Linked DNA regions of Homo sapiens: region 1 is linked to region 2. Evidence: fine-mapped expression QTL. A gene starts in region 2. The other region holds a variant in brackets. All regions are shown on one strand. Distances are from middle to middle.

Region 1 (9,856 bases), 45 kb before region 2:
CTGTGAGGTAGGACCCCCATTCCCAATATCAGAGTACTAGGAAGTCTTTTGATAAGCTGGTGATCACAGAATCTGAGCTAAGATAGTCAGATGATCTTAACGGAATATTACTATTAAGCTGCAGCAGCAAACTCACTTGGCCCTTTTCAAGGTAAGATTACACCAGCAAATTCAACTAAAATATCCATGCCCCAAATCTGAAACCTCCCTCTCTTGGGCAATGCCGGACACACTAAAAACTTCTCACCATCAAGACATTTATGTGGCCAACAAACATACGAAAAAAAGCTCATCATCACTGGTCATTAGAGAAATGCAAATCAAAACCACAATGAGATGCCATCTCACGCCAGTTACAATGGTGATCATTAAAAAGTCTGGAAACAACAGATGCTGGCGAGGATGTGGAGAAATAGGAATGCTTTTACACTGTTGGTGGGAGTGTAAATTAGTTCAACCATTGTGAAAGACAGTGCGGTGATTCCTCAAGGATCTAGAACCAGAAATACCATTTGACCCAGCAATCCCATTACTGGGTATATACCCAAAGGATTAGAAATCATTCTACTATAAAGACACATGCACGTGTGTGTTTACTGCAGCACTATTTACAATAGCAAAGACTTGGAACCAACCCAAATGCCCATTAATAATAGACTGGATAAAGAAAATGTGGCACATATATACCATGGAATAGTATGCAGTCATAAAAAAGAATGAGTTCATGTCCTTTGCAGGGACATGGATGAAGCTGGAAACCATCATCCTCAGCAAACTAACACAGGAACAGAAAACCAAACACTGCATGTTCTCACTCATAAGTGGGAGTTGAACAATGAGAACACATGGGCACAGGGAGGGGAACATCACACACTGGGGCCTGTTGGGGGGTGGCAGGCAAGGGGAGGGAGAGCATGAGGACAAATACCTAATGCATGCAGGGCTTAAAAACTAGATTATGGGTTGATAGGTGCAGCAAACCACCATGGCACATGTATACCTATGTAACAAACCTGCACGTTCAGCACATGTATCCCAGAACTTAAAGTAAAATAAAAATAAGTTAAAATAAATAAACAAAACTTCTCACCATCAACCTCCCTTTTTTGTAAATTCTCCCAGAATTGCTTTCCTTCTGTTGGCTCTAGACATTATAATAGTCCCCTCCACCCTGTATTGCTTCACCTGTCTTAATGTTTGCATTTCCCAGGTTTATGGATTATGCGGCATTGACTAAATTTGAGGTTGCTTCCTGGAGATCTCTAGGGAGTACTTAAATGTCATCAGTAACTTATTCACAGTTTTACCATAGACTGCAGTCTTTTGGAAAGATTTCCTGTAGACGGTTGATCCCACCCATGGTAGGTGGATTCTTGCAAACTGTAAACACAAAGCCCTTACCTGACCTGCATGTTGTGTCTTCTCCCTGATCACTTGTGTCTGTCCTCATTTGTCCCAAATTTGCCTTTACAGTTACAACTCTTGTACACCTCTTCCAGGAATTAATATATAACAGAGAGTGTTGAATTACTTAACAGTTTAAACATGTGCTTAGGACATCAGAAAAAATTGTTTTGAGAATTATTTTAAGAATTTATAAAAGAATTTGATGGTTGGTTTTCAAAAACAAAAATTTAAGTAGTCATGGGGAAAATGATAGTTTGTTTTACTTATTTTATTGTTTATAATTACGTTTAATTTGAATCCATAGAGGATGGTGTTGGGAGGACATTCGTTTATTTATTTATTTATTTACTTATTTTAATTTTATTTTTTTTAAGACGGAGTCTTGCTCTGTTGCCCAGGCTGGAGTGCAGTGGCGCGATCTCGGCTCACTGCAAGCTCCGCTTCCCGGGTTCACGCCATTCTGCTGCCTCAGCCTCCCCAGTAGCTGGGACTACAGGCGCCCGCCACCGCGCCCGGCTAATTTTTTTTGCATTTTTAGTGGAGACGGGGTTTCACTGTGGTGTCGATCTCCTGACCTCGTGATCCACCCGCCTCGGCCTCCCAAAGTGCTGGGATTACAGGCGTAAGCCACCGCGCCTGGCCCATTTGTTTCTTTTAAATCTTAGAGCCTTTAAAGGTATTAATTTGGTCTTGATTACAGCGTCCAAAAATGAAACATCCCATAATGATAAGAGGGACTGATACATGTGGAATTATTTGAAATCAATTCTTTTTACTATGTTGGAGCAGAACCAGACCTCACCAAAGTAGCACCTTGTAAAGGCAATATGGTATGATGGAGCTGGATTTGACCTCCAGCTCCCCACTCACTATTAATGCTCCCTTGGAAAAGTCTAACTTTGCTCAGCCTCAGTTTCTTCATCTGTAACCTAGCGTACTGATCCCTCATGGAGAAAGTGTTCAAATTGTAGCCTATATTGATAGGCAGAAGGCAAAGTGGTGGTACGGAAGAGATGGTAGAGCAGTATGGTGTACTGGTTAGATATAGATTCCAGAGCCAGTCTACCTAGGTTTGAAGCCTGCCTCATTATCCATAAAATGGGTTGTTATAAGAATTAAATGAGTTAAAGTATGGAAAGCAATGAGAACACTGCCTGACATATAAAAAGCACTCCATAGTTGCTTGCTATAATAATGATGATGATGATGAGCCCTAAGAAAATATAAGCAGAGGACCTAAACTCAATGGTACTTTCTTTTGCTATTGAAAAGGGGAGCAGAAACTATAGATCAGAGACCATTATTATACAAACTTTGTAAGATTATGAAACTTTTGTCACTACCTTATGTCCGTCGGTTTTACCCTGTTTTCTCCAGAGTTTAGCAAATTTTAAATGAGCCTGTGTGCTTGGCTTCAATAGTAGCAAGAAACTGGGAAGGTGCAGAGTTTGTGTCTCATTCTGCAGCTAGGCTTGGGGAGTAATTACCAAAGAAGAAAACAGGTGGTATCCCCATGGCCATAAGGAAGAAAGAACACTGGGGGTGGCCCTAGGCCTGGAAAGGGGCCTGGGGACTCAATGATGGAAAGGTTTATGTAGTTCCCTGTTCTCCCTACTTCCATCACAGGGCTGTGGTGAGCATCAAATGAGCTGGTATGTATAACAGTGATTTTTAGGCCAGTAAGTATCATGGAGACATCACTAGAATAGCAATGAGTACTTTCATGTTACATCTGCTACTTTGGAAATCTGCCCTCAAAAGTGTATATGTGAGACTTATTCAGCTCAGAAACAATATTCAACTCTTGCCTTTTCTTGAAGACCGATTAAGCTCTGCCTCTTCCAGGAAGTCTTCTCTGACCACCTCAGTCATCATACCACACTGTCTTCCAATTTTTATAGCATGACATAGCATGAGTTCCTCATCTTCTTACCTCTCTCATAGCCTGTGAAACCTCCCATTGTTATTTACCCTTTTCTGAGCAAGTCCTATCTTATCCAGATTGCTCCTTAAGGCAGAGCACAAAGCTCTCTATGCACAGTAGATGTTCAATAAACATTTGTCATGTGATGGTGTGGTAGGCAGAATAATAGCCCCCTAAAGATGTCCACATCCTAAGCCTGTGAATACGTTACCTTGCATGGCAAAGGGGAATGAAGGTGGAATTAAGGTTGCTAATCAGCTGACCCCAAAGCAGGGAGATTATTATGGATTCTATGGGTGGCCTAATGTAATCACAAGGATCCTTAAAAATGGAAGAGGGACACAGAAGTCAGAGTGATGAGATATGAGAACATGACCCACTCTTACTGACTTTGAAGATAGAGAAAGGAAGCCAGGAGCCAAGGAATGTGGGCTGGAACTTCTCCCCCAGAGCCTCCAGAAAGGAATGCAGCCCTGTCAGCACCTTGATTTTAACCCAGTGAGACCCAATGCAGAATTATGACAACCAGAACCATAAGATAATAAGTGTGTGTTGCTTTAAGCCACCAAGTTTATAGTAATTTGTTATAGCAGCAATAGGAAAGTAATACAGATGGTAAAGAAAAGACTTTCCTGCAACCATATTTACTGGCTCTGAACTGACTACTCTGCCTGGGAAAGAAGATAAGCCGGGTGCAGTGGCTCACACCTGTAATCCCAGCATTTTGGGAGGCCGAGGCGGGCGAGTCACTTGAGCTCAGGAGTTTGAGACCAGCCTGGCCAACGTGGTGAAACCCCATCTCTACTAAAAACACAAAAAATTAGCCAGGCATGGTGGCGGGCACCTGTAATCCCAGCTAACTACCTGGGAGACTGAGGCAGGAGAATTGCTTGAGCCCTGGAGGCGGAGGTTGCAGTGAGCTGAGATCACGCCACTGCACTCCAGCCTGGGTGACAAAGCGAGACTCCGTCTCGAGAAAAAAAAAAAAGAAGAAGAAGATAAAGTCACAAGTTTTCAGAGCTAAAGGTTGACAATGTACAGTCCCTACCATCAGCATAATGTGCTGTGGATAAATGCATTGGAACTATTTCGGTTGCAAGTAAAGCAGTGTGTAAATGATTGGCCTTTTAAATAAGGAAATGCAACTGCTTTAAAAAAAAATCCTTTTCCTTTGTTGTATTAGGAGCACTTAACACATTCTTAGCGGAAGGGACCTCTCCCAGAACAGAATGCAAATATTTGCCCTCCCTTCCGGAGAGTACAAGATGAGACAATTTGAATTGTGAAGACTGAGCCCTCTTTGCAGTTAAGAAAAATATTTTCATGGTTAAGACTTTGGACGCTGCTTTGAAGCTCTTAACCATGGGTCATCAA[G/T]GTCTCTCAGTAAAAAAAAAAAAAAAAGAAAAAAGAAAATAAAAAGATAAATTGGTTGCTTCCCTTACTTTGGAATTTCAACCACTTTGGACATAACCATGAAATAACTGGTCGTTTAACAGTTTCATGGTTCCATTTCTAAAATAAGACAATGTTGCTTTTAATGGGACCAGAGCAGATGAGAGGCAGAGCAGAGTGTAAGCAGGTCAGATTGGCAGTTATCTAAGTAGGTTGTATGGATTTTTTTTTCTGAGAAATTAGAAATTCTATTCCTCCTCTCCAAACCACTAAAAAATAGCCTTTCCATTAGTGTGTTATAAGGCAGAAAAATTTTACCATTTGGAATTTTTCCTTTGAGAAAAGCTTTGTTCCTGAAAGCTATAGTTAAATTCCATTGTTACCTTGTGGTGGTGGAGGGATGAGTGGACTTGGTCTTCTGTCCAAGGGAGAAAGAGAAATAACTCATCAACCCACGATCACCTGTTGCTCATTATATTTTCACTGAGAGTAGGGTCCAGAGAGAAACACACCTAAGAGAGGTAAACTTGAAGGTGAGGTAAAAACAGAAAGATTTGTAGCAGGGGCATCTGACAAGAATTAATAGTTAGAATGGGATACTGCAGCAGTGGACTTTGAAAAACAGGAGTGCATTGGGCATTTGGAGGTGGGCTGAAGCCAAAGTGGGTGCCCAAGTGGGGAAGCTTGGAGATGCATTTGATCCATCCAACAATGCCCTCCCCTGACCTACTGAATCAGAATTTTCATTTTAGTAGGACCACCAGGTGGTTCATACCCATATTAAATTTGAGATGCTTTGTCCTAAGGTGTCTGCAACTCACAAGGGCTTAAAAACTACTGACTTAAGCAGGTTTGGAAAAAGATTAAATAGAAAAAAGTTGGAACCTGATCTCAGAAAATTGTTAAATTAAATTCTTTCTTGTGTTCATTTAAAGATTTGTCTTTTAAGAAACAGTTTTTAAAAATCAACTTTTCTCTCCTCCTTTGCTTAAATCTTCACAAACCACAAACAAGCTTACTTTCGTTATTGCAGGAAAAACCTGAATTTACTTGGATAAACATCAAAGGTTCCTGTTAGAGTCCTCTTTTGATCATTCAGAAGATATGAAAGCAAACAATAATCAAAAAATCCCCAAGAGACTTTGTTTAGATATCAATTTGTCTTAGTAATTGTCATAAGTCATATAAGAGCTGGGAGGCAGCAGGCAGGAGGTCATTAGGTTCACCACTCAATTTTCAGGCAGGTCAGAACTCGAAGTGGACAATTCTCTTTTGAAAAACCTCTGAGGAACAAAACAGCCATTGCTCTGACTTAAAGCTCTTACATTCAGAAATCTCAGCTAGAAGTCAGTTTAGGGCTGGGTGGGGTGGCTCACACCTGTAATCCCAGCACTTTGGGAGGCCGAGGTGGGCGGATCACGAGGTCAGGAGTTCAAGACCTGCCTGGCCAACATGGTGAAACCCCGCCTCTACTAAAAATATAAAAATTAGCTGGGCATGGTGGTGGCACGCCTGTGATCTCAGCTACTCAGGAGGCTGAGGCAGGAGAATCGCTTGAACCCAGGGGGTGGAGGTTGCAGTAAGCCGAGATTATGCCATTGCACTCCAGCCTGCGTGACAGAACAAGACTCCGTCTCAAAAAAAAAAAAAAAAGAAGAAGAGGAAATCAGCTTAGGCTGTGTGCAGTGGCTCACGCCTATAATTCCAGCACTTTGGGGAGGTCAAGGCGGGTGGCTGACCTGAGGTCAGGAGTTCATGATCAGCCTGGCTAACATGGTGAAACCCTGTCTCTACTAAAAATACAAAAATTAGCCAGACGTGGTTAATACCTGTAGTCCCTGTAGTCCCAGCTACTCGGGAGGCTGAGGCTCGAGAATTGCTTGAACCTGGGAGGTGGAAGTTGCAATGAGCTGAGATCGCACCACTGCACTTAGGCCTGGGTGACAGAGCCAGACTCCGCCTCAAAAAAAAAAAAAAAAAAAAAAAAGGAGTCAGCTTAGTTCCCTAGTCTTTTCTGAGCCTGTTAATCTAATGGAAGGGATCACCCTTTTCTGTCTCATAGGTGGTCCAGCCAGGCCCATTAATGTGTGCCTATCGGGCCTGAAAAGAGCTAGCTAGGCTGGAGAGAGAGCAGGTGATGGACAATCTTTGAGTAAAGATTGACAATGTGTTTCTGTCTTGGAACTAACCTCTCTTCACTCTGATTTTTGCTACCATTAAGTAGTTTCCTGGTAGTACAAGAAGAGAGAAAAAAGGCAACTGTGGGAGAGAGGAGTATTTTATTGTTTTATAATTGGTCTCTTAGATAGGTGTAGTTTATTTCAAAGGGGGAAAATGAATGTCTTTAGGAGTTTGAAATAAGCTGTATTTTCTCAGTGGAAACTTGATTCTACTGGATTTTTTAGAGACTCAATTGGAGAACAAAGTGAGTGTTCATTCAATGTTCATTCAACATTTATTAAATATTTAATTTTGAACAGGCATTATGTTAGGAGCTAATGATACAGAAGTAAGTAAGACAAACAAGTTTCTTGTCCTCAAGGAACTTATATTCTGGTGGGAGGGACAGATAAAAACAACTGAAAATAAAAGTATTTCAGGTAGTAATGAGTGCTATGAAGAAAACTGAAACAGGAAAGGGAGTAGGGAATGATGTGTGTGAGGTAGAGAGGCTATTTTATTTTTCTCCTTTAATGGAAGCCTATCTTTATGCTCATTAAAATGCTTTCTGATATGGTCATTTTTAAAAGGCCGCCCAAACACTTCAAATCTGTGGGTTTATGGAGCAGCATTAGCCAGCAGCTAGTTTCTATTCCTGGCAGAGCTTTGAACTTGAATTGTGATAGAAGCATTCAACATAATCAGGGGTAGTGGGTAAGGAAAGTCCAAATCTCTGCCATTCCCAAATCCATAGAGTTGTCATTTCATTCAAGAGAATTAAATTGTTTATTGATTACACATGATAATGGATGATACACAAGCTTCATTCCCATCTATAATTTTATCTGGTACCATTATTCAATTTAGATATATTGCATAGGATGTGCCAACAATCATTTTTATAACCAATAATTCCATGATTTTGCTTGGGTAGTCCCTTTTAATGGTGAACTTCAGGTCACAACAGTAACTATCAATTCAATTACACCAAGGTTTCTGAAGACAATGGCTTCTCCACCCAAGCAGGTTGTATGTAAATTCCAAATAGAACCTGGCATCACCCTGAAGGAATTCCAACTTCACACTGCTGGGGAAATTTACCAAGATGGCTTCAGAGTAGACTAACTTTACACAGCACATTAAAAAAAAAAAGACATTTATTCAGCGTCACGATCAGACTATTACATTTAGCAATCAACAACATGGGTGCAAGGAAAAAAATCTACATTAAAACCCTTTGTTGAAATGCTTTACACTTTCCACAGAACAGAAACTAAAATAACCTGTTATACAATTAGTCACAAATACAGTCCTCAAGTTTTTTGCCCATACACATGAATATTTGTCTAAAATATGTCTTCTTTGTAGCAGCTAGGCCCTGTCACCACTGTGCTTGGCTGAGTTCACGAATCTGTTGTAAACTGCAGCTTCCCTGTCACTTCTCTGGCTCTCCTCTCCTGCTAAGCTCTGTTTCCTAATTAACATCTTCTGCCACTGCCATAGCTACTGCTGCTACTGGAACCACCATAGCCACTGTGGTTTGGTGGTTTGGCAAAGTATTGGCCTCCGCCACCATAGGGGCCAGAGCTTCTGCCCCAAAGTTTCCTCCCTTCACGGGTCCAAAATTTGAAGACTGACTGTTGTAATTGCCAAAATCATTGTAGCTTCCACCACCTCCAAATTGCTTCCATCATTACCAAATCCATTATAGCCATCCCCACTGCCACCATATCCACCACCACCATGGCTGCCACCAAAGCCACCACGACCACTGACGTTTCCTCCATGACCAAAGTTGTCATTCCCACAGAAACCACCTCCACAACCACCACCAAAGTTTCCAGAACCACTTTGACCTCTTTGGCTGGAAGAAGCACTAGCCATCTCTTGCTTTGACAGGGCTTTCCTAACTTCACAGTTGTGGCCATTCACAGTATGGTATTTCGGAATGACAATCTTATCCATGGAGTCATGGTCGTCAAAGGTTACAAAGGCAAAGCCCCTTTTCTTGCCACTGCCTCAGTCATGATTTCAATCACTTCCATTTTTCCATGCTGTTCAAAATAATCTCTTAGCTGATGTTTTTCAGTGTTTTCTTTAATGCCACCAACAAATATCTTTTTCACAGTTAAGTGGGCACCTGATCTTTGATAATCTTCTCTTGAGACAGTTCTCCTTGGTTCCACAACTTTTCCATCCACCTTGTGTGGCCTTGCATTCGTGGCTGCATCCACCTCCTCCACAGTGGCGTATGTAACAAACCCAAAGCCCCTGGAGCGCTTGGTGTTTGGATCTCTCATTACCGCACAGTCTGTGAGCATTCCCCATCGCTCAAAATGGCTCCTCAGGCTCTCGTCGGTTGTTTCAAACCTCAACTCTCCAATGAAGAGCTTCCTCAGCTATTCGGGCTCTTTAGGAGACTCTGACTTAGACACGACGGAAGGGAGAAGAGAGACTTTAATGATGCTTCTTTGTTGGCATCCACAGGCAGAAAGGAGCAAGCTGACAAACGTATCTGGAGAGGCTATTTTAAATAGAGTGATCAGGGAAGTCCTTTTTGAGAAGGTGGCATATGAGATAACATGTGTATGCTGAGACGGGAACAGCCAGGCTTCTTTAGGGTTCTAGACAGAAAGACTTGCCATGTACAAAGGACCTGAAATGAAAATCAGCTTAGTGTGCTAGAGGAACAGCAAGAAGGCAAGAGTTATATGTTGAATTGTGTCTCCCCAAAAATTCATATGTTGAAGACATAACCTCTAGTGCCCTAGAATATGACCTTATTTGAAAATAGGGAACTGGCTGGGTGCAGTGGCTCATGCCTGTGATCCTAGCACTATGGGAGGTTGAGGTGGGCTGATCAAGTGAGGTCAGGAGTTCGAGACCAGTCATGGCCAACATGGTGAAACCCCATCTCTACTAAAAATACAAAAATTAGCCGGGCATGGTGGTGCGTGCCTGTAGTCCCAGCTA
Region 2 (9,856 bases):
CCATGTTGGCCAGGCTGGTCTTGAACTCCTGACCTCAGGTGATCCACCCACCTCAGCTTCCCAAAGTGCTGAGATTACAGGCATGAGCCACTGCGCCTGGCCAGATTCTGCTTTTTCAAGAAAGGGCTCACAACCATATCTCAGCCAAAAAGTCTTGGGACAGATCAGAGGAAAAAAAATATCTCATATACACAGGAAGCCATCAAAGCAACAAAAGTACTTAAAAGACGACAACTCAAACCTGAATGAACTACATAACTAGGCCCTCGAAAGATCACTGTAATAGTTACTTTTTGTGCCTCTTGTCCTGTTTGTGGACAAAAGCCTTTTAAACTGGATTCTTTCTTTACGAAGAGAAAAACATCCTTATGAAAGCCTATCATCCTTGGAATAAGGGTAAGATGACATTTCCTGCTCTGCCCCTCCCACCTCCCCCATACAAATCAGAAGTCTTTAGCAGTTCTGATGTGGTAAGTGGAAGAGAAGCAACTAGAACATCTTGTTCTGGAACACCTGAGTTACCACTTCGCCACTCACCTTTAATGAATAAAAACTGTGGACTACTTATGACTAGTAAGAACATTTGTAGTGGACATTAACACGTCTTGCCCAAGAGACTGAGGTCAAGGGTTGTATTTATCTTGTTTACAGCTCTTATCACTTAGTAGGTATTTGAGAAATATTTGCTGAGTAAATGAAAGAATAAGAAGGAAGAAAATAATACAGGGTAAGCAATTATGGGAGGAGAGGATAATAATAACAGCAATGAAATTTAACAGAAAAGTAGACCAAAGACAAGCCCAGAGGTTGATATGCTCTCTAGCCTTTAGTTCCTGATAGGAAAATTTGGAACATATGCTGGCTGCCAGTCTCCATAGATCACCCTAAGACTGATGCATGTGTACCACTCTGAAGCATGTAGTTTGAAATTGTCACCTTCTAGGGACAAACTCTAAGACCTGGGAAAGAAAAAGATGCAAAGAAAGAACAGAGAAGAAAAAGCAACACTTTTTTCCTATTCTTGTTCTGCATAAGTGCATTTTCAATGAAAAATTTTAGATTTTAACCCCAACCCATCAGTACTATTGCTAAATTGGAGAACAGTATTGGAGAAGGTGGTGGCATGAAATGTTCCGTTTACATTTACATAAATGTTCTGTTTCTATTCTCAGGGCTATTTTCTGGTTTAAGTAAGGGTGTTTGTCCATTTATAAGCTTCAATAAATTAGAGTACATTTTCATTTCGGAAGTATGCTTGCATTTCATGTAAGGCACCCAGACTCTACAAGCACCTTCATGTGCCTGATAACACTAATCAAGTTCCTACCTATCTAACAAGTAATTGGCCTTGAAAATAAGCGAATCCAGAGTATAATTTATGAGTTTTTATCTTTTCTCTGCTGTGGGCTAAGCTGCCTGAGGTTATAAATGCTTCCCAATCATTTCTAGTGGAAGCTAAACAACAAAAATGAAAAACAGTACTCAACACTCTACACAGAGGGTTCACAAAGCAAACAAAGGAAGTCAAAAAGAGGGGAGGGTGCAGCTGGGTACTTTCTGAAATTTGTATCTTGAGAGTTTTCGATTGGTTAACTCAATATATTGTATTTGAAAAAGGAGGGATGAATGGTTTATTTGCTCCTGTAGTCACAACTTTAAATTTCTTGGTTTCAAGGTCAAGATGAGGTCTTCCTTTTACAGCTTAACTTCAAAGATTTAGAACCGTAAAGGACCTTTACATCACCCAGTCCAAAGATGCATATAGGCCAGCTGAGTTATATCTGACCAACAGATATGGTTTGGTCCATCCTGTGTTGTTGTTGTTATTGTTTTAGTCAGCTGTGAAAATTTAAAATCATGACATTTCATATAAAAATCCTGTCTTGGGAGCATCTCCCGAAAAGTTAGTGGATCTGGCAATACTGGGTCTGAATTCCAACATGGAAACAATGCGCCAGGGCTCTAGAGGGGCTACCTCCTTCAGGCAGGTCATGAAGATTTCAGATTACCATGGTACTCACTACTCCTCAGTATTTCTCTGAGACTTTGTTTTCATTTATCATCTCACACAAGGCTACTGTTTTTTCTTATACTAGGCCTGCTTCATTCATTTATGATACCTGCCTGGTCCCTGCAAGTGTTTGAGTTTGAGACCCATGATTTAGACTAACCCATTTGCTTTACAGATGAGGGAACTCTATATGCCTTCCTGTGAAGCCATCTTCAGAGATTTTACCAAGAACACACAACCAGTCAATGACAGGGGGAAGACTAGACTCCAAATTTCAGGCCACTGTTTCCATTGATATCCCATATTCTCTCTGATAGAGCCTAATCGATTCCTCCCCACTTAAAAATTTATTGATAAAAAATTTTTTTGGCCTTATTGAGGTATAAGTGACAAATAAAAATTATACATGTGTACAGATATGAAATTTTATAAAGGAGTGAGTTCCATCCTTAATTAGTTTCACAGACTTTTTAGTTGTCTAATGATGAGGTATCTTCCCATTGCAACACTCTGACCCATATTCCTCGGCTGACTGCAGTTGTCTGCCTCTCTTGCAATCAAGACAAACTTGGTCCATTCCTTACTCCTGAACTCATAAGTTTTGCAACATCTCTCTACCTTGAAAACCCCATAGCATCCAGATGAGACTGTTGACACAGGTGCCTATCTCGCTAGGATTAAGTGCATTCTTTCCACTTCAAGGCAATCTGAATGGAAATACTTGATACTATTAAATTGTGCTACTGCATCCACATAGAGAGATGAACTGCCTTCCTTTGCCCCCTCCCAACTTCGTATCTTTATTGCAGAAATATACAAAGAGATAAATAGGAAACTGATAAACCGACAGAGAACTGAACTATATTGGGTTGGGGTACAGATTACCACAGATGGTTTAAAATAGTTTCCAGATGTCACATTACTCTGGAAAATTTGAAAATGGCAGTAGCACCAGCCCAAGCAGCTCAGGGTAAAGAAACTTTTATCCAATTTACAAAGCATCCAAAAGGTAGAGTCAAAATTACACACTCAGACCAGGCGCGGTGGCTCACTTTGGGAGGCTGAGGCAGGAAGATCACTTGAGCCCAGTCTACATAACGAGATCCCGTCTCTACAAAAAAAATTTTTTTTTTTTTGAGATGGAGTCTCACTCTATCGCCCAGGCTGGAGTGCAGTGGCACCGATCTTGGCTCACTGCAACCTCTACCTTCCGGGTTCAAGTGATTCTCCTGCCTCAGCCACCAGAGTAGCTGGGATTACAGATATGCGCCACCACACCCAGCTGATTTTTAGTAGAGACAGGGGTTTCACCATGTTGGCCAGCTGGTCTTGAACTCCTGACCTCAGGTGATCCACCCGCCTCAGCCTCCCAAAGTGCTGGGATTACAGGCATGAGCCACCACACCCGGCCTATAAAAATTTTTTTTTAATTAACCAGGCATGGTGACACATTCCTTTGGTCCCAGCTACTTGGAGGCTGAGGTGGGAGGTTCGCTTGATCCCAGGAGATCAAGGCTGCAGTGAGCCATGATCGCACCACTGCACTGTAGCCTGGGAGGCAGAGCAAGACCTTGTCTCAGAAAAAAAAAATTTTTTAAATAAAATTACACACTCTGCAGCTATGGCCTTCATGCACAGGGTGATCACGTCTTGTTGTTCCCATTCTAGTTTACACAGGCCAAATAGCATCGTTCATTGTTTTGGAACACAAGTACATACCACATGTTCATCATGGTGGCATTTAAGATTTCAGGTAAGTTTTCTGAATGGTAGACAGGGAAGCCGAGAGTGGGAGGAAATGAGAGAATTGATTAGAGCCATAGTATCCATCTTGTAAATCTTTCATCTTTCTCTGCCCAAGTCTGGGGTGGGGTTAGGGGGGTAAGGAAAAGATTTAAAAGTTGCTCACCTGATAACAGGTCCCAAGAGGATTAGATGCATAAATAATGATAGCGGTTTATCTTTGGCTAGATCTCTGTGGACAAAAATGAGGGTCAACTGGACCATAATGGATGAAAACATAAAGAAAGAAAAGGTGTATGTCATCCAGTAAGTTTCACTATTCTTTCGATAGATTCTAACCATGTACAAAGCAGATGCAGCCTCCCCACAGTACAAAAAGGTGGAGAAAAGGATGCTAAATGGAAAAGTAAATCGGGGGTTGGCTCCACGGATGACATCTTCCTCCAGAGATGAAACCGGATCCACATTTGGCTCCTCAGGAATTTCATAAACTCTGTCCATTGTCGAGGTTCTTTCTGAATGTTGTGGTCTTGTGTTCATAGCACCCTCCCACCCATCCCCAAGAGAACCCTATGGCCGCTACAGTCCAAGTATAGGTGAGGAGAGCTCTGTCAAGTCCAGTTTGGGAACAGAGATTCACTAGTTAGAGCAAGAAACCGCTCTCTTCTAGACTCAGATTCGACTTGGAGTCTGGGATGGAAAGCCCAGGAGTACCACTTTGAACTTGACTCTTGATTGGCCCCGATTCCAATCGTCAACATACTTGCTGTGAAACTTGAACAAGACAAAAGCAAGCATCCCAGCGCCCCATCCAGAGTCCAACTCCAGGGACGTGAAGAGTCATGAGAACAGCGGCTTCCGTGGCGGCTCCTTTCGCAGCCCCTCAGGCAGGGTGTAGCCGATCTGTCGGGGGCACCGACACTCAGCAGCTCCTCACAAAGAGTCCTGACCAGTGTGTCCTCTCAAGTCAGCGGAGAGCTGAGCCAGGGCAGAAGAGCGGGCGCAGAAGAAGGAGGGCAGAAGAGGGGATTCAGTTCAGTGCCTAGGTATCCTAGCTATTGCTAGGCTGTAGCTATCAGCTGGCCCGCTCACCTGCGCGCTCTCAGGACCTTTGCCGAGTCCAGGGTTCTCAGGATAGCTCCTCGGATTCCCCCAAGCCCCGCCCCCAAGACCGCCTGGCCCGGGAGTGGAGTATTGTCACCACCCTGTCTCCGAATGCAGTGTTGAGGGACAGAAGCAGAGCGCGCTCGCTCTACAGGATGAAGAAAAGGCTGGAGGGGCTGCTTCTCCTCGGAGAAACTTTGCTAGTGAGAGGCACGATGTGCGGGGCGCCAACCTGGCTGGACGGAGGTCGCCAAACTCTTGGACGCCGTCTGCTGCCAGGGTCCTGCCTGGTCTGCGATTCCAGCTGCGAGAGGTCGGCAGCTTCAAAAACTAAGGCACCGGGACGGCGGGGGCGGGCGAGATGGGCGGGACGGCTGCGGCCAAACAAAACCAGCCGGAGAGTTCCCGGGCAGGCGGCCAGCCGAGGGATGCTCGTTGTGGAGTGGCGGGACAAAAAGGGGCTTGGGCCGCTCTTCAGAAGCACTTCTGACCACCACCTCCAGACCCAGGCAGGAGCCACAGCTTTACTCCTCCCTAGGAGCAGCAGGCCCCCACTTCTACCCCGCCCTCCCTAACTAGTTAAGTGACTTGCTTCAACACTCACTCTACCCACGCTGTTAGGCAGGTGTGTCTCCCTCCGCCGCAGGGTGGAACCTCCCTAGGTCCTATTGCCCTCCAGATAATATCATGAAGGGGGAACCTGGGAGGAATAGGGTCAGAGTTTTCGGCGGAGGGAAGATAGAACAGGATAAAGGTCAAGACTCAAGGTCAGCCCACAGACACTGAAAGCTCATATTTTATGCCTTGATTTCTCCACTTGCAAAATGAGGCCAGGATAGGAGCTTTAGAATGAACTTACAGGTCTTTGGTTGAAAGGTTATGAAGAGGTGCCAAATTCTAAACAGACTGGCAAAGAGCCAAGAGAGAGCTGTTAGTAAAAACTGAGAGGGGTGTCTTAAAGAGCTTTGAAAATTACCTGTATTCTTAAGTGTAATCCTCCCCACCTCACTGAGCTTTTGTTTTCATATCTTCATTTGCATAATTCTAAACCTCAGAGAAAAAGAGAACACATCTGCCTCCTGGTAATAATATAGATGAAGGCCAGGCACAGTGGTTCACGCCTGTAATCCCAGCACTTTGGGAGGCTGAGGCAGGCAGATCACTTGAGGTCAGGAGTTCGAAACCAGCCTGGCCAACGTGGTGAAACCCCATCTCTACTAAAAATACAAAAATCAGCTGGTCGTGGTGGTGCGTGACTGTAATCCCAGCTACTCAGGAGGCTGAGGCAGGAGAAAAACTTGAACCCGGACGGCAGAGGTTGCAGTGAGCTGAGATCACGCCACTGCACTCCAGCCTGGGCAACAGAGCAAGATTACGTCTTAATAATAATAATAATAATAATAATAATAATAATAATAATGATGATTATGTAGCAGAGCCTGTGCCAATCTCCTTTTGCTGCAGGAAGTCAGTAAAACAAATCTATGTGAGGAGTGGCCAAGTAGCAGCCACCAAAATAATGGCCTCCAGGTTGTCCTGTCATTATGTTGTTTTTTGTTTTTTTAAGGTTTCCATGATTGCTGCCTCCTTTCCCCAGGGCTGATTCAGGGACAGATTCAACATCTAAAGGTTGTCACCTTCTGAAGCAGACTCCGCATCTTGGTCTGCACCTATGCTAGCAGCTGGGCTAGGAGGCTGCTCCTTTCTCCTTTCCATTTCATGAAGGAGGTCAACACTATTGAGAACAACTTCAGAGAGTGTTCTTTTTCTTATTAGTTGGGACATTCCAACTGGGACAAGGTTCTCCACCACCAGTATATGGTGCAGAACCTCTTGGGGCTGCTCTAGGTAACTGTTCACAAGGTGAATCTCAGGCAAGGTGACCAATTAATCCCATTTCACTGGGATAGGGTGAGTTGGTCCCCCTAAACATGAGAGAGTCAGCCGGGCGCGGTAGCTCATGCCTGTAATCCCAGCATTTCGGGAGGCCAAGGTGGGTGAATGGCCTGAGATCAGGAGTTTGAGACCAGCCTGACCAACATGGTGAAATCCTGTCTCTACTAAAAATTCAAAAATTAGCTGGGCGTGGTGGTGGGCACCTGTAATCCCAGCTACTCGGGAGGCTGAGGCAGGACAACCCCTTGAACCCAGGAGGCAGAAGTTGCAGTGAGCCAAGATAGCACCATTGCACTCCAGCCTGGGTGACAAGAGTGAAACTCCATCTCAAAAAAATAAAAATTAAAAATAAAAAAAAAAAAAAACATGGGAGAGTAAAGCTAAGAAGAAGAATGTAGAATCCCAACGTTTACCTTTTAGCCTTTCCTCCTTCTTCTCCATGGCCTTGTCTCTCCCCAAATACAAAAATTTACAATGCCTTCCTACTTTGTTCCAAAATGACTCCTTCTGTCTGTCATTCAAGGCTCTATATAATCATCACACTACTTCCCTCTCAGATTTTATTGCCCACACTACTCCTTCCACAAGGCCAGCCAGTTTTCTCACTTCTCCTATTTGCGTTGCTCACTCCCACCTCTGCCTTGTTGATGCGATTTACAACCCCCTTCACCCTTTTCTCCATTAGTCCAAACCATAACTTTCTTTCAAGGGTCAGCCGAAGTGCTCCCACCTCCAAGAAGCCTTCTGTCACCTCCCCAACCCTCATTTTTCTCTCTTCATGCTACTGGCACATGCTCTCTCATACTAGTCCTTCAACTATTTCTGTGTTTGTCCTGCCTCCCCCCAAAAATGTAAAGTTAGTGAGGGAAGGATGCTCAATGACTGTTTATTGTGGCACTTGTTGATGACAATGGTGATTGACAAATGGTGATGATGATGACGCTTCCTCCCCCATACTTCCTCCTTGAAACCATGCAAGACTCAGACACACTCATCTCTAAAAGCTGTGGCCACTGTAGCTGGGGCATAAACTCCTCTGGCTGAATGAGCACTGTCTCATTCAGCCATCAGCTCACAGAGGTTCCCAGACCACATGATCTGTCCCTTCTCAAGGATTTCTATAGCATTCTTTTGTTTATACCAGAGTGTAGCACCAAAATTATTTCAAGTATATTAATTTTTATTCCCCAACTAAATTATCACGGGCTCCTTGAGGGCAGAGCCCTTATTACTGTACTTTTGTTGGACTCCCCCATGACTGGTATAGACCTGTAAAGTTCCTGTCATCTGATCACCCTCACCCACCAACTTCTCTATTTTCAGCCCTAGGATTCTCTGGCGCTTTAGGTCACTAAATCCTCTGGTCTCTTATTTCCCCGTTCCTTTGCCCTGCTGGGAGTAGCTAACTGAGAATTTGCTGTTTCTGTCCAAACACTCTTTGCTCTCTCAGGCCATCTCAAGATTCCAGCTCTTTACTCTTCTTGGGACTAAAGATGCTGGAAATGTTGGCAGTCATAAGGCTGCTGAGGCTCTAGGAACCCCTGTCCCATTAAAAGCACTGATCTCCCACAGACTAGTCATCTGAGGTGACACCTAGGCTGCCTCCTGAATGCCAGGTAGTGTTCAAGCATAAATTTCTCCTCCTGAGAAGCACTAGAATTCTGCAAGAAAGGGGAAGAACAAGATCTGACTCCTTACCACTCTATTTCCAACCACTGACTCAACAGGAACAAAGAGCGCATCTAAAAGCCATGTGGTCTAAAAGCTCTTGGCATCTTTATCAGCATTCAGAATCCCTCTATAAGGCTCAGGGATGGGGTTGAGCTTTCCAAGCCTCTGCAGCCTGAAGACTGCCCAAAAGCCTCCAAGGAATGGATGTGTAAGAGGTGCGTGGCATCCATGAGGAAAGAGGAGAGGAAGGACAGAGATGTGCAGCAAGTGGCTGACAGTCCAGTCACAGAACACTTATTGGTGGGAGGTGATGGGCAAGGCCCAGAGAATCAATAGCCAGAATGGAAGATGGCTTCCCTCTAAAGAATGCTCAGTTTGGGCTGTTAGAATGCTTAAAAGATATCTAGAGGCCAGGCATGGTGGCTCACACCTGTAATCCCAGCGCTTTGGGAGACTGAGGTGGGAGGATTGCTTGAGCCCAGGAGTTTGAGACCAACCTGGGCAACAAAGTGAGACCCTGTCTCTACAAAAAAGTAAAAACAAAATTAGCTGGGCATGGTGACACACACCTGTAGTCCTAGCTACTCTGGAGGCTGAAGTGGGGAGGATCGCTTGAGCCCGGGAGGTTGAAGCTGCAGTGAGTTGTGACTGTGCCACTGCACTCCAACCTGGGCAACAGAGCAACTCTGTCTCAAAAAAAAAAAAGAAAAAGAAAAAGAAAAAAAGCCAGGCGCAGTGGTTCACACCTGTTAATCCCAGCACTTTAGGAGGCCGAGGTGGGTAGATCACCTGAGGTCAGCAGTTCAAGACCAGACTGGGCAACATGGTGAAACCCCATTTCTACTAAAAATACAAAAATTAGCCAGGTGTGGTGGCACACATCTGTAATCCTAGCAACTCCGGAGGCTGAGGCACAAGAATCGCTTGAACCCAGGAGGTAGAGGTTGCAGTGAACCGAGATTGTGCCATTGCACTCCAACCTAGGTGATGGTGAGATTCCGTCTAAAAAAAAAAAAAAAAAAAAAACAGAATGCAAAATCAGTCGTATCATCTAGGTCTTATTTTTCTTTTTGCTATAAACTCCCTGAGAACAAAGACCCTTGCCTGTTAGTTCTGAGCCACTCCCTCATCAGTATCATCCATAGCTGGGATTTGGGCCTGGAGTTAAAACAGAAGTAACTTCCCTGCAGCCCTCACCCCTAGCATTTTTCTTCAACAAATCTGGTTAGAAATGACATCTAAATTAGTCTTGAAGGGAAAGAAGTGCTGCCACATAATGCAGCATGGCATTTGGGATGTTGGGTGTTGCCAGGCAGCTGGCAAGCTCTATTTATATTGCCTGGTGGAAGAGAAGGGTCAGGGAGGGGAATATAATGATATTATTTAATTTTTTAAATAATACTCTTTATTTGGAAATAACTCATATGCCAT

The links. PIP is the estimated chance that this variant, and not a neighbour inherited with it, causes the effect. A credible set is the group of variants that fine-mapping cannot tell apart.
Region 1: its variant is the best candidate, but not a certain one, in a credible set for the expression of XKRX in lung (TOPMed, PIP 0.75).

Annotation. Positions count from the first base shown.
Region 1 is chrX:100,879,274-100,889,129 of GRCh38, forward strand. It overlaps a transcript of XKRX not described here and the pseudogene HNRNPA1P27. Among named protein-coding and RNA genes, the nearest start is that of NOX1, 9.8 kb to the left of the region's middle. The variant G/T (reference allele first, on the strand shown) is at 4,706.
Region 2 is chrX:100,924,050-100,933,905 of GRCh38, forward strand. It overlaps XKRX (XK related X-linked), which reads right to left and starts at 4,868. Exons shown (of 3, transcript NM_212559.3): 1 at 3,921-4,868. The coding sequence starts at 4,255. RefSeq lists enhancers at 3,072-4,271, 5,465-5,514.